4 separate regions of the Homo sapiens genome follow, and all the other regions are reported to be linked to region 1. The links are microRNA targets in miRTarBase. Many come from high-throughput screens and were not tested one by one. Region 1 holds a microRNA gene; each other region holds the end of a gene's coding sequence.
What was found. The annotated mature microRNA hsa-miR-6720-5p reads UUCCAGCCCUGGUAGGCGCCGCG and lies in region 1 at 3,493-3,515, opposite strand. An mRNA with a match to its seed (bases 2 to 7 or 8) in the 3' UTR can be bound and repressed. Matches are read on the target gene's strand: a 7mer-m8 pairs with bases 2 to 8, a 7mer-A1 pairs with bases 2 to 7 and ends in A, and an 8mer does both.

Region 2: the mRNA of CDC42SE1 is a reported target of hsa-miR-6720-5p. Seed matches in the 3' UTR shown: 7mer-m8 at 1,582-1,588 and 7mer-A1 at 1,273-1,279.
Region 3: the mRNA of MNX1 is a reported target of hsa-miR-6720-5p. Seed matches in the 3' UTR shown: 7mer-m8 at 3,716-3,722 and 7mer-A1 at 3,338-3,344.
Region 4: miRTarBase lists SCARF1 as a target of hsa-miR-6720-5p. Seed matches in the 3' UTR shown: 7mer-A1 at 2,049-2,055 and 7mer-m8 at 2,392-2,398.

Annotation. Positions count from the first base shown.
Region 1 is chr6:1,386,867-1,393,104 of GRCh38, forward strand. It overlaps MIR6720 (microRNA 6720), which reads right to left and starts at 3,545; the gene lies at 3,448-3,545. FOXF2 (forkhead box F2) reads left to right here and starts at 2,710. Exons shown (of 2, transcript NM_001452.2): 1 at 2,710-4,252. The coding sequence starts at 3,082. FOXF2-DT (FOXF2 divergent transcript) reads right to left here and starts at 2,595. Exons shown (of 3, transcript NR_187218.1): 1 at 2,153-2,595. RefSeq lists an enhancer at 3,892-4,757.
Region 2 is chr1:151,051,606-151,054,605 of GRCh38, forward strand. It overlaps CDC42SE1 (CDC42 small effector 1), which reads right to left. Exons shown (of 5, transcript NM_020239.4): 4 at 2,626-2,716; 5 at 1-1,722. The coding sequence ends at 2,642. Among named protein-coding and RNA genes, the nearest start is that of C1orf56, 5.4 kb to the left of the region's middle.
Region 3 is chr7:157,001,656-157,007,893 of GRCh38, forward strand. It overlaps MNX1 (motor neuron and pancreas homeobox 1), which reads right to left. Exons shown (of 3, transcript NM_005515.4): 2 at 4,824-4,984; 3 at 3,199-4,218. The coding sequence ends at 3,865. It overlaps MNX1-AS2 (MNX1 antisense RNA 2), which reads left to right and starts at 4,652. Exons shown (of 2, transcript NR_147077.1): 1 at 4,652-4,769; 2 at 5,222-5,465. RefSeq lists enhancers at 1,203-1,909, 3,626-4,278 and a silencer at 4,047-4,241.
Region 4 is chr17:1,630,516-1,636,753 of GRCh38, reverse strand. SCARF1 (scavenger receptor class F member 1) reads left to right here. Exons shown (of 11, transcript NM_003693.4): 10 at 1-45; 11 at 1,137-2,896. The coding sequence ends at 1,996. Among named protein-coding and RNA genes, the nearest start is that of SLC43A2, 4.8 kb to the right of the region's middle.

The sequences.
Region 1 (6,238 bases):
CTGAATTGGTAGAAGCTAAAAGAATCTGGGGTTTTTTGCTTGTTTCCTTGTTTGTTTTAATGAGTACCTGTGGACTTCCTAAAATCTCAGGCAAGTTGGAAGTATTTTTCTGGAAACTGGCTCCATAGCTTCCATCGTATTCTCAGAGGATGACCCCATAACCCCAAAACTGGGAGCTACTAGTATAGAAGGTTATCACTGGTCCTGCCTGGATTTTAAGGTTAGCGCCTTTTATTCTTCAGTCTCCGGGTCCTAAAACCTTTTAAGGCCTGCTCTTAACAAGTTGGATCTGTATTCCCTGAGATCCAAATACATATAATTTTCAGGCACAGAGAATCAGAGAGAGTCCATGGCTAAGTGACAATGAGTACTGAATGTTTCCAAAGCCCGTTGCCCACCGCCCCCACCTACAAATGAGATAATTGTCCTTTTCCCCCACAAGCTTCTCCCCTGGGCTCTTTCCATTTAAAGCACACACACACACACACACACACACACACACACACTGAACTCTATGTCAGTAGAGCTCCTTTAAGATCCTATCTGTCCTCCCCACTCCAGCTTCTATTTTATGAAAATAATTATATTTTAGGCACTTAGAGCATTGGTTTAGTGAACACATTATATTTACTTTCATATTTAGTTATGTATTTTTAAGTTATTCCACACAAAATGACAAATGAGGGCAAGAGAAAAAAATACCATGAAATATATGGGGACGCACCCCCCAAAAACGCTCAGCAGTCAGTCAGAAATTCTTAGAAAGTGGAAACAACTGCGAAGCCCTACCCCAACCCAATCAAAACATCCCACCCGGAAAAGAGCGACTTGTTTCTTTTTTCTATTGGAAATGAGTGGTAAACTGAGTTCGGTTTGGCGGTGTTTTCTTAGCTGACTCTCGGCTACAATCAAGCCATTTTCGGACACATTCCCATGTAGGTACCAGGGGTGCTCTGGAGGAAGCTGTCGACGCCTGTTCAGCTAATTTAGGTTTTCTTTGTCTAATTACTGTGGAGCTTAGGGAGAAGGAGCCGGCTCAGGGCAGTAAACTGACACTCGGTCTCTGTGTGTGGTATCCAGGCAGGGTTTGATGGAAAAAGCCTGCTTCCACTCAACCTCAGGTCACTGTCTGGGGCCAGCCCCGGCCCACCCCCCTCCCACATACCCCTCCCCTCCCCACCCGCCCTCTCTGCATCTACAGCCCCACCAGCACACTCAGCCAGGAGCAGTCCCCCGGCACTCCAGGGGCACACAGGGCTCCTGCCGCCCCAGGGGGCCTGCCTAGGCTGTGCGGCTGTGAAGGCTCTTTGCCTGGTGTCTTCCTCCTGATTACTGCACAACCTCCCTTTCTCCTGCCTCCTGCAACTCCCCAGGCTCCCCAGCAGGCACACCCGTGCACCTCGGTCCTTTCAGCCTAGACGCAGCGGGGTGCCCAGCTCTACCTCCTGTTTGGTCCGCTGGTCTGCAGCACCTTCTTTCTGGGCCTCCCCCTTCAGCCCTTGGGAGGCCCCGCCAGCTCCGGCCTCCTGCTCTCCTCCTCCCTCTCCCAGCTCCTATCCCTGGTCGGACTACATTTCCCTGCACGTGTAATCCAATAACTAACTGTCGGGTCTCATTGGAAGTGATTGCTCCCGAGGGCACATCTCTCTCAGAGCCTGACTCTTACTTAGGGAGGAATTAGCCACAACTGGGGAGAAGTGTTCTCGGACAGGAGTTAGCTGAGACCTGGCACAGTTTTGGGTGGGCAATGTTAAGACGGAGGATGTAAACCTAGTGACAGCTGCACACCCCTTCAGGACTGACTATAAATATAGCCATCTCGCTTATCTCAGGGTCTTTCTTTTTCTTTCTCTTTCTTTCTTTTCTTCCTTCCTTCCTTTTTCTTTTGCACTTTTTTCTTACAGAACACTAACTGGGGTGCGGGGGTGGGGGGAAGAAGTGGAAGCAAATGCAACCCTAAGTCCCATGAGATCCAGGTTTCCAGAGTCTTTGAAACTTGGCCTAGGTTTCTCAGTGTAAATCCCTCTGCTCAAAGTTCCGAAAACGTCCACGATCGCCAGCGGCCCGCAACCCTGCGGCGGCCCCCAGTCGCCCTAACAATTGTCGGGGAGCCTGCAGGCCCTGCCAGAAAGAGAGAGGATTGGCACGTTACCTTTGGGCGTCTGGCACCCCGGCGTGTGGCTGAGGGCGGCAAAGTCTAAACGAAGTTGACAGATGGAGTCAGTATCGGCCCTGGGGAGGGCGGCCAGGGAGGCTCCGAGCAGCCGCACCCGCAGCAGCACCACTCGGCCCGGCGGGCCAGGAGGAGGAAGGGGGCGCGGAGGGGCGGGGCTGGGTCCTGGGATGGGACGCGGGGCTTGCTGCGGGGGGCAAACAGAAAGAATATTTCATGAAGTCAGAGGTGGTCGAGTTTTGCGAGGGGTGGGGGTCGTCCCCCTGGCAGAACCGGAGTGAGTCTGTGATCCCTCAATTGGAAAGAGGGTGAGTGAGGGAAAGGGGAGGAGGCCGCGAGAGGAATGAAGAGCGAGGAGACCCTGGAGAGCGGGGAGCGAGATAAGAGAGGGAGGCGGCCGCCAGGTCGGGAGGGGGAGGAGTGAGCGCGGCGGCGCGGAGCGAGGAGGGGGCAGGGCGGGGTGGGGGGGGAGGGAGGGAGGGAGGGAGCGAGGAGGGCGGCCGGGGAGGGCGAGGGAGGGAGGAAGTCCGAGAGACAGAGCGAGGAGCGCTCCTGAAGGGAGACGTCGGGCTCGTCCCCGGGGTCCAGGCCGCGGTCCCACTCGCGGGCGCAGTCGCCCGGCGCCGGCCGCTCGGCCCCGCGGCCTGGGAGGCCGTTGCGCAAGGCAGGGCCCGCGGCTCGGGGAGGGATGCGCCGGGCGTTGCCTCCCGCCCGCCGCCGCCGCCGCCGCCAGAAGCCCCAGAGGAGCTGAGGGAGGCGACGCCGAAGCGCTGGCCCGGAGTGGCCACGGCTGCAGCCCGGGCGGCGGGCTAGGGCGCTCGCAGGGCTTCTGGGCCGACCCCGCTCCGGCGCCTCCGCTTCCCGCCCGGGGCCCGCCCTCGCGGCCCGGCCTCGCTCCCGGGTCCCAGATGACCACCGAGGGCGGGCCGCCGCCGGCCCCGCTCCGCCGCGCGTGCAGCCCGGTCCCCGGCGCGCTCCAGGCCGCCCTGATGAGCCCGCCGCCCGCCGCCGCCGCCGCCGCCGCCGCCGCCCCGGAGACCACCTCCTCCTCCTCGTCGTCGTCCTCCGCCTCCTGCGCCTCGTCCTCGTCCTCCTCCAATTCGGCCAGCGCCCCCTCGGCTGCCTGCAAGAGCGCGGGCGGCGGCGGCGCGGGCGCCGGGAGCGGGGGCGCCAAGAAGGCGAGCTCGGGGCTGCGGCGGCCCGAGAAGCCGCCCTACTCGTACATCGCGCTCATCGTCATGGCCATCCAGAGCTCGCCCAGCAAGCGCCTGACGCTCAGCGAGATCTACCAGTTCCTGCAGGCGCGCTTCCCCTTCTTCCGCGGCGCCTACCAGGGCTGGAAGAACTCGGTGCGCCACAATCTCTCGCTCAACGAGTGCTTCATCAAGCTGCCTAAGGGCCTCGGGCGGCCCGGCAAGGGCCACTACTGGACCATCGACCCGGCCAGCGAGTTCATGTTCGAGGAGGGCTCGTTCCGCCGCCGGCCGCGCGGCTTCAGGCGGAAGTGCCAGGCGCTCAAGCCCATGTACCACCGCGTGGTGAGCGGCTTGGGCTTCGGGGCGTCGCTGCTGCCCCAGGGCTTCGACTTCCAGGCGCCCCCGTCGGCGCCGCTCGGCTGCCACAGCCAGGGCGGCTACGGCGGCCTCGACATGATGCCCGCGGGCTACGACGCCGGCGCGGGCGCCCCCAGCCACGCGCACCCTCACCACCACCACCACCACCACGTCCCGCACATGTCGCCCAACCCGGGTTCCACCTACATGGCCAGCTGCCCGGTGCCCGCGGGACCCGGGGGCGTCGGTGCGGCCGGGGGCGGCGGCGGCGGCGACTACGGGCCGGACAGCAGCAGCAGCCCGGTACCCTCGTCCCCGGCCATGGCGAGCGCCATCGAATGCCACTCGCCCTACACGAGCCCTGCGGCGCACTGGAGCTCGCCTGGCGCCTCGCCTTACCTCAAGCAGCCGCCTGCCCTGACGCCCAGCAGCAACCCCGCCGCCTCGGCAGGCCTGCACTCCAGCATGTCCTCCTACTCGCTGGAGCAGAGCTACTTGCACCAGAACGCTCGCGAGGACCTCTCAGGTAACGCAGCACGCTCCAGCCCAGCCAGCTGGGCGCACCGCTTCTAGGCCTCCAGGGCTGGCGGCCACTGCCACTCCCACAAACAGGGACCCCGAAGCTAGGAGGTCTGAGGGCACTGGGAAAAGCAGATGCTGGGGAAAGCCGGCATCTTATTCGTGGGAGCAGGGATCAGGGTCTTACTGTCCTCCCAGTATCCCTGGCCAGCAGCCGAAGCTTCAGAATTGTCTGGCTGCTGTGAGCGTGGTGTAAAGTCCCCTGCCTTCCTGGGCTCTTTGGGGATCCCTGTGCAGGAGACTGCAGGTCTCCCGTTCAGAGTCTCACTTAGCTTGGAGAGAAGGCATCTGGCCTTTGGGGAACTTGGTCAGGAAGCTGTGTCTAGTTCCTTTTGTCCCTTTTTTTCCTTGCGTTCATTTTGCTGTACTTCTGTCCCGAAGTAAATGTCAGAATCAGATATGTTCTGTATGTTGGGGTGTCTGCAGCGAGATGTTTGCAGCTGGGCAAGTGTTAAGAGGAGGGGGTGGGAGGGACAGAGCTGGATCCCAGGATCTTTCACTAAAGGGACATTTGCCAGTGGAGGGGGTCACCAAACTGTTGGAGACTCCTCCCCTTCCCTGCCTCCCCCCCCGCCCAACAATGGACCCACATTGATGATACAGGTCCTGGGTGGCAGGACCTGAAGGACCCTGCTAGGACTCCCCTGAGAAATGCGCCTGCCCTGTGGATGCCACTTGTAGTGTGGCTGGTTTACATTGTTCTGGTTGCAGATTATGAAAAATTATTGACTTGCTGAAGGCGGTGAAAGGTGGGAGGGGACGGTAGGGATGGAAGAGGGAATTTGAATATTTGACCAGGTTAATGTGAAGAACAGAGATAAACCCTTACATTAACCCCTCGCTCGGAGCACCTAGGGCTGCAGATTAAAATCCCATGGGCCTGCCAGTCAAAGGCAAGGCCCCAAGCTACTCTCTCACACTGGCCTCCCACAGCAATGAGACAGTGGCTTGGAGGGTGATGCATGCTTTATGTGTTCCTGAGCCGGTGTGCAGCGGGAGCACCCGGGGAGAAGGAAAGCCCAGAAATGGGCAAAAGATGTTGGTTCCCTGGACGGTGAAATTTCCCAAATAGGCCTTTTAAATGTGGGTCTCAGAGGTTAACCAAACAAAGACAGTCTCGGCAGGACCACACCGGAGAGGATTTTAGCCTGACTTAACCCACTGAGAACAGAGTCTTGTTCAATTTTATGGGAATTTCAACAAGTAACCAATACAGGCGGCCTTCCCCTCTTATTTTTGTATTCCCTTGGACCGGCTGTCAATCACACACACACACACACACACACACACACACACACACACACACCCCTCGGTGCACTGGCCCCTTCCCTTCCCCGCCTGCCTGCTCCTCTCCCAGCCTGCCAGCTGCCCTCCCTGCTCCCCTTCTTCTCCTCTCCCGGCAGATCCACTCAACTTGAACCCGGACTCTGAGGCTTAGCAGCCTTGGAGAAACCGTACTCTAGGAAGAAAAAAAAGCACACAGGAAAGAGACTCCTGACCCTTCCTCAAGGCTGCTCTCGCCCCACCTCATAACACTGGGCGCAGGCACAAGCTCCCAAAACTTCGGAATCTGGATACATTACTGTCTTGGAGGGGGTGAAAACTGCCCAGCAAAGCAAGCCGGCCTCTGTGCCCCTACCCAGCGGCCTCCCGCGGCCGGCCTTCCCTGGGAGCCTCGCAGAACCCCCGACCGAGTCTGGGAACGCCCGGGGGAGACAATAGCTCGGGCCTGACGCCCGACAGGGACCCTCTGCCCTTCCTTCCTCGCTGTCTTGCTCCCGTCCCTATAGGATACCCACCCGGCCCTGTTGCCATCTCCCTGGAGCGCCAGCGGTGGAGGCTTCGGAGGAGCCGGCCGGATGCACCGGGACCCCGCGGGGCCTAGTTGGGAGCGCGCCGCCCACTGAGGCCTGGGGGCCCGGCGAGGCGCGGG
Region 2 (3,000 bases), not on the chromosome of region 1:
TCCTAATTACCCTGGAAGGGCCAGAACGAAGAACACCTGAGAATACTGAAAGTGCCTAAAAACCCCTGCTCCTACGTTGTTTTCCCATTTAAAGCAGACTCTTCAGCCAGGGGGCAGTGGGACCTGGTCTTCAGACAAAACTCCCTGAGTCTAATGTGTGTCTAGGACTAGGGCACAGAAATAGAGCTTAAAATTTGGGGAGGATAAGGAGTGTATCTACTGCTTCTCTCTCCCCTTTCCCCAATCCTACCATACCCTGTTCATATCTCTACACTGCAGGAACCACTTCTCCAGAGGGCAAGAATGGAGGAGGGGGACCTGTCCATCATAGCAACATGCAAACACAAGCAAAACACTGAATAAAGAATTGTTTGGAGATTATGTGCAGCCCTACTGAGCCTCATTTATATGGGCTCCTAGTTGATCCATGGCTCGGGCTTAAGATGAGTAAGATGATGAGGGTAGCGTGCCAAGCAGAAATCACTTCAGAGAAAAATATCTTGACTTTAGAGTTGTGGTTCTCAAATGGAGGCGATTTTGCCCCCTAGGAGAAATCTGGCAATGTATAGAGACATTTTTGGTTGTCATAACTAGAGTGGGCCAGGGTTGCTGCTAAATATCCTGTAATGCACAAAATAGGAAACAGGTTTTCCTTACAAAGAACACTTCAGCCCAAAATGTCAAAGGCATCTCGGTTGTGAAACCTTGTTCTAGAGCCTCTCCCTGCTCCCGTGCTGTGAGGATCTTAAGACTCCTAAACTCACAGATGATTGTTTTCAACCTATTTATCTCACCATCCTCAATGATCAGAAGTCCACCTTGAGATGGACTTACTCCTAGTTCTGCCGCATTCTGGGTTTCTTTCCAGACCCCTCTTCCTCCTCTCACCTGGGCCAGCAGGGAGGTTGGCAGAGGGCAGGAAAGATGCCCCAAAACTTAAATGGAATGTCATCAGGTGAAGAGCTACCTCTTACCTTAACTCTTATTCGGTGGGAAACAAGGTTCCTAATAGGGATAGAGTTAAGGGCGGAGGCAACAGCAGGATGAGGATAATTAAGAGAACCTGAATTAAATTTTTAATATTTTAAAAAAGGAAAGTTGCTGGGAAGCTGGTAAACAGAAACAGAAGATTAGAGGCCTAACTAGAAAGAGACACTGGTGTTAGCAGAGAGATATTGAGGGGCTGTAAGCCTAAGGTTTGAAATCTAAAGATAGAGTGGAAAAGGGAGTAGGCACCCCCACCAGCCCCTGCTTGACATCTGCTTTAGTTCATTCCAGCAGGAAGGAGGAGAAGGGCAGGGAGGTAGGGAGCTTCTCAGCAAAGCCAGCTTCAGCTTTGATAATCTCACCCACCTACCCCATTTAAGGAGTTCCAGGTTTAAGAGTTTAAAAACAGGTGGCACCCAGACCATCATTCAGGAGACAGGAACTCATTCCAGGTTCCTAGAGAACTCCTATCTCAGACCTGAGGGTTTCCAGGGCTTCAGCTGAGCTCCTCTGGCTAACCAGTAGTCACTTGATCAGTCCTGCTGCCTTGACCCCATCTCCAGGAGGGGCTATGGCCAGAGGGAGTAGAGGGAGTCCAGCCCCCAAGCCTTGTGAGGCACTGTTAGGCAGATAGGGAAAAGAGGGGTCCTTAGATCACTGGTTCAAGGAGGGATCTGGTAGGGGCAGCATTTCTTCTGGGCTGGAAACAGAATGGGGGTTTCAAGATGGCAGAACCTGAAATAAAAAAAAAGTTTTTCTTAAAGAAGATTAGCCTCAAAGAAAACCAAGGCTTTAGGAAGAAGGCACTACCTAGTGCAGACTTTAAGCTATTTCCACAGTGTGTTCTTTACTTCTGTCTGCACAACACCCTCTCAGTCTTTCTATATCCTACATTCTTTTTTTTTTTGAGATGGAATCTCACTCTGTTGCCCAGGCTGGAGTGCAGTGGCGCAATCTAGACTCACTGCAACCTCCACCTCCCGAGTTCAAGTGATTCTTCGGCCTCAGCCGCCTGAGTAACTGGGATTACAGGCGTGTGCCATCATGCCTGGCTAATTTTTGTACTTTTAGTAGAGACAGGGGTTCACCATGTTGGCCAGGCTGGTCTCAAACTCCTGACCTCAAGTCATCTGCTGACCTCGGCCTCCCAAAGTGCTGGGATTATAGGCGTTAGCCACCATGCCCGGCCTAGATCCTACATTCTTGAATCTTCCCTTCTAATTCCTCCCTATCTCCCATTCTTTTTTTATATTTTGAGATAGAGTCTTGCTCTATCACACAGGCTGGAGTGCAGTGGCGCGATCTCAGCTCACTGTAACCTCCGCCTCCCAGGTTCAAGTGATTCTCATGCCTCAGCCTCCCAGGTAGATGGGACTACAGGAGCACGCCACTGTGCCCGGCTAATTTTTGTATTTTTTGGTAGAGACAGGGTTTTGCCTCGTTGGCCAGGCTGGTCTTGAACTCCTGGCCTCAAGTGATCCACCCATCTCGGCCTCCTAAAGTGCTGGGATTACAGGCATAAGCCACCATGCCCGGCCACACCTCCCTTTCTTGCATAAGATCAGGGTTCTGAGTCAGGGTATCAGGTTGTGCTGTTATGGGGGCTGAGGTGTTAGATGGGTTTCTCTAATCACTCACCATTCCATTATTGGAGCTATAAGCCCCTAGAATTGCTCCATGGCCTATCTCGGTTTCCCTTGGATCTCATCTGCTCCTGAACTGCACCTGTCTGTAAAAAAACAGATGCGAGACACCTTCGTAAGTCTTCATATCCTACAGTAAGAACTCTACTTTGTGCCTTCCAGGGAAGAGGCTGACGCCATCTCCTTGACAATAGCAGCCATCTGCTAACCACCATTCCTCCTAGGGGAGTCTCAATGCCTCTTTTCACACTGGCCTTCATGAGGATGAGGTAAAATGGGTCTTTTACTAATAATATTCCCTCACAATGGATTCTCCCCTATATATCTGAGTTTCAGGATCTGAGAAAAGACTATCTCTAGACCCATTTCC
Region 3 (6,238 bases), not on the chromosome of region 1:
TTTTGTATTTTTAGTAGAGACGGGGTTTCACCACCTTGGCCAGGCTGGTCTTGAACTCCTGACCTCGTGATCCACCCGCCTTGGCCTCCCAAAGCTCTGGGATTACAGGCGTAAGCCACTGCGCCCAGCCTGATTTTTAATTTTTTGAGGGAAATTCTGTACTATTTTACATAATGGCTATGCCATGTTACATTCTGACCACAGCTGCAATTTCTCCACATTCTCACCAACACTTGCTATTTTCTGTGCTTTTTGTTTGTTTTATATTGGCCATCTTAGCAGGTGTGAGGTGGATCTGTGGCTCTGATTTGCATTTCCCTGATGCTTATTGGTGTTGAGCATCTTTTCATATGTGTGTTGCCGTTTCAAAATTTTATTTGGAGTCATATCTATTCAAGTCATTTGCCCATTTAATTTGGTTTTGTTGTAGAGTGCTGAGAGTTACATAATCTGAACATTAACCCATTCCCTGATTCGCGTGTTGCAGATGATATCTCCCATCCCCAGGTTGCCTTTCACTCTTGTTGATCGTCCTTTGTGGCGCGTACGTTTTTCAGTTTGATGCAGTCCCATTTGTCTATTTTTGCTTTGGTTGCCTTGTGTTCAGTATCAAAGAAGGAAAGTCACCGGATGAGGGAAGGGACAGGTCCACCTCCTCTCCCTTCGAGCTGTTTCTTTACTCCCTGACACCAGGGATTAACCGGGGTCTCCTGGCTGCCTCTCACCTGGCAGCCGGAGCTCCAGGAGGGGCTGGAAAGGAGCCCCCTGGGCCTCCGTCTGGGGGGCGTGTGTGAACTGTTTTCTCCCGTCACAAAAAAGGCTTCCTCCACATGCGTTTGCACGCCCGGCAGAATTCGCCCACAGCAAGGCCCCCCTTTCTAAGAAGGGAGGAGAACCCACATTGGAGCAAAGAAAACGGTGGCCAAGAGGTGGGGGCCTCGGTAGGGCAAGGAGGCAAGGCTGGGTTCCAGGGGACAGGGTCAGCTTTGGGTGGGGCCCAGAGCCCCGGGTCGCAGTGACGGCCGCCGCAGGGGTCTCCCCCCGCGTACCTTCGCTTCTGTTGAAGGCAGTGAGATCCGCAGGCCTCCGGGACAGCTAGAGGACAGCAGACATGTCCCGTGGGGGAAGCCTGGGCCTGTCTGAAAACACCGCCTCAGCTCCCTCCGGGGTCCCCCTGCGTAGACCTGGCTTCAGGTCCGGAGAACCGGATTCTTGAGGGCTGCAAAGACTTTCTCCCCCATGCGCGGGGTCAGCTGGCGGCTCAGGTGCGATTGGAGGCCTGGGCCCCGAGGGACCACCGCCCCAGGCCGAGCCGAGTCAGCGACCCCGAGCGCGGCGCCCAGGGGTGGGGGTCGCGCCCGCAAGGCGGGCAGAGCCGGGCCTCGAGACCGTTCATTAGGCAGAATGAATTGTTCACCGTGCCCGGAGTGGATGAGGACGAGCCAGTGATTATATTTAAATTTGCTATAATTGATTTGGGGAAGAGCTACTGTGACAAGAACGAATTGATCATTAAATTTATTAGCGAGATAAATTCCGCGGCGACTGAGCGGCCTGCTGGAGGCGCAGGGGCCGGCGCAGGTCCGGGGCCTGGCTCTGCTGGAGGACGGGGGAGGGGCGGCCCTATTAACAGCGTCTTCCTTTGATGTCGCTCTTCCCCGCGTCCCAGAGGAAGCGCCTGTCCCCTGGGGGTAGAGGGACAGACCCTCCGCGGAGGCCTGGGGCACCCCAGCTCCAGGCCGAGCCCCCACTCTTCCCTGGCTGCCCAGTGTTGGTGAGGGCGCTGAGGCTGGGCCGGCTGAGCCCAAGGGGAAAATAATCCCCAGATGTGGGGCCAGCCAGGGGAGAGATTGCTGCAGGCTGAACCTCACCAATGTGTTAGAAATTAAAAAGAAATGTAGGGATTGCAGATTAAAAAAAAAAAAAAAAAAAAAAAAAAAAGCATCTGTCTTCCCCCCTTCCCTCTGGTTTTCCCACCCTCTTCCTCTGGGCACTCTGCCTCCTCCACCAGTGGCAAACCCTCTCCCAGTTCCCCTAAACACCTTTGGACCCCAGGCGGCGGAGGCCCGGCCCCTGCGCCAGCGCCCAGCAGCTGCTTCTGCCCGGACTCCCAGCAGCCGCGCCCCGGCCTTGGATGAGGTTGATTTTATGGAAGGGGCCCGGGGTGATAATGAGTTGCCAGAGAGGATATTAATCTCCCCGCGCCCTGAGGCAGAGGAGTGGCTGCGCTCGCCCCGCGGTAATCACCCAAATGAAACGCCAGGCCCTTCTGAACTCATTTTATCCGCTGGGAGGAGGGGAGGGGAGGAGGGAGGAGAAGGGCACACGCAGGTGCTGCTGAGAAAGTGACAAACAGAAGGAAGGAGGAAGGCCCGGGAGAAGGGATAGGAGCGGCGTCCCCGTCGCCCGTCTCCTCCGGGGCCAGGAGAGGCCACTGGGTCATCGATGGGGGAAGGGGGCCGGGAGTCGCGCCGGGCTGGGTGGGCCGCGGGCCTGCGCTCCTGGGCGGACGAGAGCGCGGGCTGAGCCCGCATGTGTGCAGCACATGGCGCTGGGCCTGGCTGCGGTGATTGATGGCGCGCGCTGCAGAGGCTGATTAACCCGGAGCCGCTGCAGCCGCGGTGTGGAGCGCTGCTGCAGTCCGCCGCTGTCCTCGCGGACTTGTTTGCACAGAGCCAAGAAGACCGATCCTGGCCAGCCAAGGAAGGTTCTGCTAACAGAGAGGGCCGGGGTCGAGGAGAGAGAGAAGCACCGCGCAATTCGGTGCGTTCCGGGAAATGTGCCTCAGTAGCGCCTGAGGTCACAGGGACCCCACATGCTACTAACGCCTAGTCGTTTTAAGCTTATTTTCTGAAACGTCCAAATAGCGTATTTCCACTTCTGGAGTGCCAACGAAGCAACAGCTAGCAAGGAAATAGGAAAATAAATAGAGTCCACAGCTCCGCTTCCGAGGGACACGTGTCCCGGGACAGGTGTGCACCAGGCAGCCGGGCATGCGCTGACACCTGGCCACAGGTATTTTTGCCAACACTTCACATTGCGACTCCCCAGTAGCAGGCGCGGAGGTGGTCCTGACACCCACTTGAGACTCCGATTTTCACCCTCAGCTGCCAACCGCCGAGTAGACACCCTCCCCATCATTTCTACAAGCAAATTGTAATGCCGCGGGCATAATCCCCCAAAACTCGTGCACGCTGATCCAGTACAAAACCAATTTATTTTACATTCCATCGTGGGCGATGGGAGAAGCTAAATAATAATTTAGCATGCATACGTAGACGTTTCTTTTTATATATAAATACAATATACAAAAATAAAGACAGTACAGTTTTGAGATTTCCAGCAGTTTGAACGCTCGTGACATAATCCCCCCGACCCCAGAGACGTAAGCATAAACCCTTTTTTCTTTTTCCAAATACTCTGCAGAATGGCGGCTCCAGAGGCGGTTTCAAGTTTCATAAGTCAGGTAACACTGTGGGTTTCCGCCTTCTCGGACGCGGGGAAAGGGGAGACAGGAGGCTTCCCCTTGCGCGGGGTGGGTCGGTTCTTCTCACACGCACTCGCGCCTCCCCCAACACCAACCAAAATTAATTTTAAAAGAACCAGAGTTCAAGTTTCAGCCCCCTGGGTCTCCCTCTCGCTGTTTCTTGAAGAGCAGGTGAGGCGCCCTTGCTTAAAAGGGAAGCGCCCAGGACCGGAGCCGCGGCCGAATCCCTCCAGCCCCGGCCTGGGCGAGGGGTCCATGGGGCGGCGGTCGAGCCTGCTCTCGGGGCCGGGCCGGGTGGGTGCGGGCGCCGGGGCCTCCGGGAGAAGCCGCCGGCCGGGGCGCTCCGTGCGCGCCGCACCTGCTGGGCCGCGGGGCTCCTACTGGGGCGCGGGCTGGTGGCTGGGCCGCGGGGGCGGCGAGTCGTCCTCCGAGGAGCAGTCGGAGGAGGCGGCGTGGACGCTGGCGCCGTTGCTGTAGGGGAAATGGTCCTCGTCGTCCTCGTCCTCGTCCTCCTCGGGGTCACTGTCCCTCAAGTCCCGCAGGCGGCGTCCGCTGCCCTTGTCTCCGGGCGCTGGCGGCCCCAGCAGCTCCTCGGCTCCCGGCTCCTCCGCGCCGCCCTTCCCCGCGCCCCCGCCGCCGCCCTTCTGTTTCTCCGCTTCCTGCGCCGCCTGCTCTTTGGCCTTTTTGCTGCGTTTCCATTTCATCCGCCGGTTCTGGAACCAAATCTTCACCTGCGGGCACAAGCGGGCGTGAGAAACCGGCCACCGCCACCCCAGGGCTTCCTGTCCCCGGAGTCCCCCGGCCGCGTGCGCCTGGGCCCCATTGGGTCGGCCCTGGAATGGCCTCAGGGTGAGACGACTTAGAAGCAGAATGGGGAGGGGGCTCGTAGCTTCCTCCTCCCCGCAACCCCCCACTCAGCAGCAAACCCCAGAGCTGGGCTGGAGCTCCGTGGGAGCTAGGACTATGTCCCCAACGACCCAGGCCGGGGACTTTTCTACCCGCGCCCTCCGTCTGCGGAGGAAGGGTCAGGGCAGCTGGCTACGTCGCGGTAAATCTCAGGATGTTCCCTCCTCTCTTTCTGGAACAAAATTTCTCGAATGCGGCCTGGGGATCACCTTCTTCAGAATGAAAGGAGGGGTGGTTAAGTGCTGATTCTTGGGCCCCACCCGAAGCTACTGAATCGGCGCTCTGGGCACCTTAGATGAACCCGTGCGCCCGCCGTCTGAACCGTCGAGGCGCAGCGCTAGATGCCTCAGACCGCCCGTGGGTCACAAGTGCAAAGGTAACAGTGTCCCCTGGGAGGCCGGGATGCGTCGGGGGCGGGGAGGGCGCGCACCTGGGTCTCGGTGAGCATGAGCGAGGTGGCCACCTCGAAGCGCTTGGGCCGCGACAGGTACTTGTTGAGCTTGAACTGGTGCTCCAGCTCCAGCAGCTGCTGGCTGGTGAAGGCGGTGCGCGGCCGGCGGCACTTCCCCAGGAGGTTCGACTGCGCCTGGGCTGGGGACCAAAGGGCAGTGAGGCCCACAGCCGGCTCCGGTCCTCGCCCCAGCCCCTCCCGTTGCTGCTTGTACCACTACACTCAAGGCCCCAGCGCCAAGGCCTGGCCCTGCAGAGGGCGGGGCTGTTCCCTCACTATCAGTGCCCACTCCCCAAGGAATGCGGACTCAGGACCACCAAGTGGAAATGGATAGTTTGGAGTTAATGAGACCAATTTTTTTTTTTTTTTTTGTCTAGGAGACGTCTGAGTGTCCCTGTTAAACAGGGCCCATCGCAGGAGGCTTCCTCTCCACAGGAGCCGGCTTTGGTAGCAGTGGATTGACCCAGAGGCAAGAGGAGAACTGAGGCCAGTCGGGGGCCAGGAAGGGAGGTTCCGGGAAGCCCAGGAGTTGAAGGCTGCAGTGAGCGAGACTGCACCCCTGCACTGTACCCTGGGTGACACAGCAAGACCCCATCTCTCAATAAATAAAAAATAATAAAATAATAAAATAAAGGAGCAGTGAGTGATGAGAACCAAATCTCTCCCCCTCTCCTCACTGCGCCTTCCTAGAGATTCAGGCTCAGATCCAAACAGGTCTGGGAAGAGCTGGTCCTGCTGTTCCAGGTCTCCCTGCACTGCCTCCTTAAGACAGAAAAGGAGGAGGAGGAGGAGAAAAAGAGGAAGGAAGGAAGGGAGAGAGGGAAAGAGGGAGGGAGGAAGGAAAGAAGGAAAGAAGGAAGGAAGGAAGGAAGGAAGGGAGGAAGGGAAGGGAGAGAGGACAGGTGGAACAGGACCAAACCCAGGGTCCAAGTCTGTGTATTCACCAGGGACCCTCCCACCTTCCAAATGTTTTCCTTGGCATGCCCCCTCCTCAGGGTGCGGGCGGCAGGGGCAAGGCCTGAGGAGACTAGAAGCCTTTTCAGGACAATTCTCATTACGCAAATTACAGGCAGAGGCGCAGGCAGGATCCGGTTCTCTGTGTGTTCAAGGAGGCCTGCCCGGCTTTATTTACATAATTTCGCACGGTTACATCACAGAGAATTTTATGACCTCAAAACGAGACTTCCCTTGATTTCCCAGGAGCCTGACAAGTGTTGGACAATAAAAGAAAGAAAGCAAAGGAAAGAAAGGAGGCCAGCCCCAGGCCTGGATGAGCTCAGGTCCCCCGGGATGGGCAGTTTGCTTTAGAGGATGGCCCACGCCCCCTGCTTTAGTCAAACAAGGCCCCGAATTCCCAACTTGACAATACATTAGAACTTTAATTAAACCACTGG
Region 4 (6,238 bases), not on the chromosome of region 1:
GAGAGGCAGATGAGGTTCCTGCCTACTGTGTGCCACCCCAAGAAGGTAGCCCCCCAACAGCCCACATAGCCCCTGAGCAGCCCTGCCCACCACGACCCCCTCTTTAGTCCTCCAGCAAAGTTATTTATTTTTATTTTTTTTTGAGACTGGGTCTTGCTCTGTCGCCAGGCTGGAGTGCAGTGGTGCGATCTCAGCTCACTGCAACCTCTGCCTCCCGGGTTCAAGTGATTCCCCTGCCTCAGCCTCCCAAATAGCTGGGATTACAGGCGTGCACCACCACACACGGCTAATTTTTATATTTTAGTAGAGACCGGGTTTCACCGTGTTAGCCAGGATCGTGATCCACCCGCCTCAGCCTCCCAGAGTGCTGGGATTACAGGCATGAGCCACTGCGCCTGGCCAGCAAACAGTTATTAAGGGCCCATTTTGTGTTAGTCACTGTTCTTGGCTCCGGGCATGCAAGAGATAACAAGACAGATTCCTATCCTCACCAGGCTTAGAGTCAGATGGGCAGTCATCAGACAATGACAGGACACAGTGATATGTGTTTCCATGGGGGACATACAAGTAGGGACTCATTTGCTAGCCATGTTGGGGTGACTGGGGTCAGGGACGATGTGTGTGGCATCCCAGTCGAGTCTAGCAGAATCAGTAGGAGTTGGCCAAGTGAAAGTCAGGGAGAGGAGGGAATGGTGTTTCAGGAAGATGGAACAGCATACACAAAGGCCCAGAGGTGAGAGGGATGTGGCTGTGTGCCATCGAAAGAGTTTTAGCTTGGTAAGAGTGTGACAGTATTTCAAAGTAGGGAGAGGTGGTGAGAAAAGAGTATAGAGACCAGGTGTGGTGACTCACACCTGTGATCCCAGCACTTTGGGAGGCTGAGGCGGGAGGACTGCTTGAGGCCAGGGGTTTGATACCAGCCTGGCCAACATAGTGAGACCCCATCTCTACAATTAAAAAAAAAAAAAGTGTAGAAGTAACAGTGTCTACCTGAATTGGTCCTTCTGCCACTCTCCTCATCCTTGCCCTCTTCCTTGCCCTATTTTTGAGGCCTCCTGGAAGATGCTGAGCTGTGGGTAGGATGCATTGGGGTGGCCAGTTCAGCTCCAGCCAAGCTCTTCTGTCTCCTCTGCCAGGGATGGTCCCTGTGGCCCAGGCAGGGTCGTCAGAGGCCAGCCTGGCTGCAGGTGCTTTCCCGCCCCCTGAGGACGCCTCCACGCCATTCGCCATCCCGCGCACCTCCAGCCTAGCTCGGGCCAAGCGGCCATCGGTCTCCTTCGCGGAAGGTACCAAGTTTGCACCACAGAGTCGCCGAAGCTCAGGGGAGCTCTCCAGCCCGCTCCGAAAGCCCAAGAGGCTCTCCCGGGGGGCGCAGTCGGGTCCTGAGGGCCGGGAAGCCGAAGAGTCCACAGGCCCAGAGGAAGCAGAAGCCCCCGAGTCCTTTCCGGCGGCTGCCAGTCCCGGGGATTCAGCCACTGGCCACCGGCGGCCCCCACTTGGTGGCCGGACAGTGGCTGAGCACGTGGAAGCCATTGAGGGCAGCGTCCAGGAGAGCTCGGGCCCTGTGACCACGATCTACATGCTGGCAGGGAAGCCCCGCGGATCCGAAGGCCCTGTCCGCTCTGTCTTCCGCCATTTTGGTAGCTTCCAGAAAGGCCAGGCGGAAGCCAAGGTCAAGAGGGCCATCCCTAAGCCTCCGCGCCAGGCCCTGAATCGGAAAAAGGGCAGCCCTGGCCTTGCCTCTGGCTCTGTCGGCCAGAGCCCCAACTCAGCCCCAAAAGCTGGGCTTCCTGGGGCCACAGGGCCTATGGCAGTCAGACCAGAGGAAGCGGTCCGGGGGCTGGGGGCTGGCACCGAGAGTTCAAGGAGAGCCCAGGAGCCAGTCTCTGGCTGTGGCTCCCCAGAACAGGATCCCCAGAAGCAGGCTGAAGAGGAAAGGCAGGAGGAACCTGAGTATGAGAATGTTGTACCCATCTCCAGGCCACCAGAACCCTGATGACCTTGAATTTGGGGAGTGGGGAGAGTGGATGGACTAGACTGTGCTGTGTGCTGGAAAATGATCCCGGGGCCAGGACAGACAAACCAGAGCCTCTGCGCCTCCACAGGGAAAAGGCAAGGCTTCCAGGCCAGTTGGCCCAGGCCCCTGGCAGTGCTCCCGGAGGGGCCCAGGAAGGCCTGGGCAGAGACCCTGTAGGATGGGGTCAGGAAGGGTTGCCTGCAGGGACTTTTGCTCTGCTGTCCTGGACCCTGTGTGCCTCATAAGGGCTATTCTTTCTTTCACGTGCAAAACATTTTTCTGAAATAGCAAACAACCTACATGTTTGCTGATAAAAGATTGGCTAAACAAATTTTTTTTTTTTTTTTTGAGACAGAATCTCCCTCTGTCCCCCAGGCTGGAGTGCAGTGGTGCGATCTCGGCTCACTGCAAGCTCTGCCTCCCGGGTTCACGCCCTTCTCCTGCCTCAGCCTCCCGAGTAGCTGGGACTACAGGTGCCCTCCACCACGCTTGGCTAATTTTTTTGTATATTTAATAGAGACAGGGTTTCACCATGTTAGCCAGGATGGTCTCGATCTCCTGACCTCGTGATCCACCTGCCTCGGCCTCCCAAAGTGCTGGGATGACAGGCATGAGCCACCACGCCTGGTCTATGAACTTTTTAAAAAGGATGTATGTGTATAAAAACAGATTCAAGGGAAAGGCACTAAATGGTTTTTTCCTCTGGAAGATGAGATTGTAGGTGATATTTATTTTCTTCTGAAACTTTTGTATAGTTTGCAAATTTTCTACAGTGAACATTCTTTTTTACTTTTGTTACTAGATTGAATTTGATAAAGTATAATAAAAAGCAATGATCTTTGTTAAAAAAATAAAAAGTACTAACATTACAGACATGTATAAAGTAAAACGGAGATTTCCTTTCTCCCCAGAGGCGTCTGTGGGTCAAGAGAGAGGTAGAATCTACTTTTCCCTGGCAGCTTTTTGGTCTTGTTTGAATTCTTTGCTCACATATTACCTAGTCAGAAAAGAAAAGGGGCAACCCTCCCCCCGAGCTTTATTTTTTTTTTTTTTAAGATGGAGTCTCAGTCTGTCACCCAGGCCGGAGTGCAGTGGTATGATCTCGGCTCACTGCCACCTCTGTCTCCCCGGTTCAAGCGATTCTCCTGCCTCAGCCTCCTGAGTGGCTGGGATTACAAGCGCCCGCCACCATGCCCGGCTAATTTTTGTATTTTTTGGTGGAGACAGGGTTTCACCATGTTGGCCAGGCTGGTCTTGAACTCCCAAACTCAAGGGCTCCACAGCTTCGGCCTCCCAGAGTGTTGGGATTATAGGCATGAGCCACCGCGCCCGGCCAGGGGCAGCCCCTTCTATCTCAGTGCTCAGAGAGTCTCATCAACAGTTGAGGTGCTTTCTTTCAGATGTTTTTCTGTGTACATGTCAACAAATATTTTAAACAAAAAATTTTAGCATACTAAGCATACTGTTCCTCAGCTTCTTTTTTTTTTTTTTTTTTTCTTTTTGAGACGAAGTTTTGCTCTGTTGCCCAGGCTGGAGTGCAGTGGTGCAATCTCAGCTCACTGCAACCTCTGCCTCCCGGGTTCAAGCGATTCTCCTGCCTCAGCCTGCTGAGTAGCTGCAATTACAGGTGTGTGCCACCACACCCAGCTAATTTTTGTATTAGTAGAGATGGGGTTTCACCATGTTGGCCAGGCTGTTCTCGAACTCCTGACCCGCCTTGGTCTCCCGAAGTGCTGGGATTACAAGCGTGAGCCACCGCGGCCAGCCTCAACTTGCTTTTTTACTTAACGACATATCCTGGATATAGTTCAATGTCCATAAATGTAAAGCTAACTCTCTTTATTTAAAAAATGACTACATGAGATTCCATCTAGCACAATTATTTAAATCATTCCCCCGCCAATGGAAGGTTGGGTTGTTCTGATCTGTTTTGATACAATAAGCAATGACATAGTATACAACTTTGTCCATATTTATTTATTTATTTATTTTTTGAGATGGAGTTTCACTCTTGTTGCCCAGGCTGGAGTGCAATGGCACGATCTCAGCTCACTGCAACCTCGGCCTCCTAGGTTCAAGCGATTCTCCTGCCTCAGCCTCTCGAGTAGCCGGGACTACAGGCGCATGCCACCACGTGCAGCTAATTTTTTTGCATTTTTAGTAGAGATGGAGTTTTGCCATGTTGGCCAGGTTGCTCTCGAACTCCTGACCTCAGAAGATCTTCCCACCTTGGCCTCCTAAAGTGCCGAGATTACAGGTGTGAGCCACTGTGCCCAGCCACTAAAGCTTCTAAAAAGTATATATAATTTTTGTGTGTGTGTTTAGCCATCAACAATTATATCTCATTACAATTTAAAGTTCTATGAGTATTCTAAGGTTGTTTCTTTTCCGTCTTGGCTCACTGCAACCTCCGCCTCCCAGGTTCAAGCCATTCTTGTGCCTCAGCCTCCTGAGTAGCTGGAATTACAGGCGCCCACCACCATGCCCAGCTAATTTTTGTACTTTTTGTAGAGATGGGGTTTTGCCATGTTGGCCAGGCTGGTCTCGAACTCCTGACCTCAGGTGATCCACCCACCTCAGCCTCCCAAAGTGCTGGGATTCCAGGTGTGAGCCACCGCACCTGGCCATTTGCCCCTTTTCAGGAGTTCATGTTTTCATTCCACAAACTCATATTGTGCAACTGCTTTGTGCTTGCTTCTCTATCAAGGGCTGGTCATACAAAGTTGAATAAGACACCGTCCTGCCCCCAAAGAGTTCATAGTCAATTAGAGAGGAAGGCAAACAGACGAATAGCTAATTATAAAACAATGCCAGCAGTGGACAAATAAAGTGAACAGTATTAATGGGGAGTGGTTAGGGAAGGCTTCCCAGCGGAGGTGCCGTCCAAAATGAGGCTATGTCGCGAGCTAGAGGAGAGAGAACAGCAGGTGCAGAAACCACAGGCAATTCCATGTGACTGGAGCATCGGGGACCAGGCAGGTCAGATGTCCTTCAGAGGGAGGGAGAGGGAGGAGCCTGTGTGGGTCAAATTGGGGAACTGGAACTTTTAAATTTTGTTTATTTTTTTGAGACGGAGTCTCGCTTTGTTGCCCAGGCTGGAGTACAGTGGCACAATCTCTGCTCACCGCAACCTCTGCCTCCCCAGCTCAAGCAATTCTCCTGCCTCAGCCTCCCAGGTAGCTGGGATTACAGGCGTGTGCCACATCACCCAGATCTTTTTTTTTTTTTTTCTTTTCAGACAAAGTTTCGCTCTTGTTGCCCAGGCTGGAGTGCAGTGGCACGATCTCGGCTCACTTCAACTTCCGCCTCCCAGGTTCAAGTGATTCTCCTGCCTCAGCCTCCAGAGTAGCCGGGATTACAGGTGTGCGCCACCACACCCAGCTAATTTTTTGTTTCTTTAGTAGAGACAGGGTTTCACCATCTTGGCCAGACTGGTATCGTACTCCTGATCTTGTGATCTGCCCACCTCGGCCTCCCAAAGTGCTGGGATTACAGGCGTGAGCCACCGCGCCCAGCCATTTTTGTATTTTTAGTAGAGACAGGGTTTCACCATGTTGGCCAGGCTGGTCTTTAACTCCTGACCTCAAGTGATCTGCCCGCCTCAGCCTCCCGAAGTGCTGGTATTACAGGTGTGAGCCACCGTGCCCAGCCAGGAACTGGAACTTTATCCTGTTTTACAAATAATAGTTTCTGAAGGATTTTGGCAGAAGTCACATTTACATTTCCCTTAGTGCCCTGGGATGAGATGGGGGCTGGATTTGAGGAACTGAAATCTGAAGGTGGCTCAACAACAGTAGTTGCGGGCCTAAGGGCACAGATGGACCGATTAGGTAAATATGTAGGAGATACAGCTGTATCAGTTTGATGGGGATGCGGTGAGGGAGAGGCAGAATCACAGCGACTGCCTAACAAATGTCTGATGAAAGGATGGTTCTCAGCAGGGCACTGTGAGTCATGCCTGTAATCCCTGCACTTTGGGAGGCTGAGGTGGGAGGATCACTTGAGCCCAAGACTTCAAGACCAGCCTGGGCAACAGGGCAAGACCCTATCTGTACAAAAAATACAAAAATTAGCCAAGTGTGGTAGCATGCACCTGTGGTCCCAGCTACTTGGGAGGCTGAGGCAGGAGGATCACCTAAGCCCAGGAGGTCGAGGCTGCAGTGAGCTATGATCATGCCACCACACTCCAGCAGTCTGGGTGCCTGAGATCCTGTCTCAAAA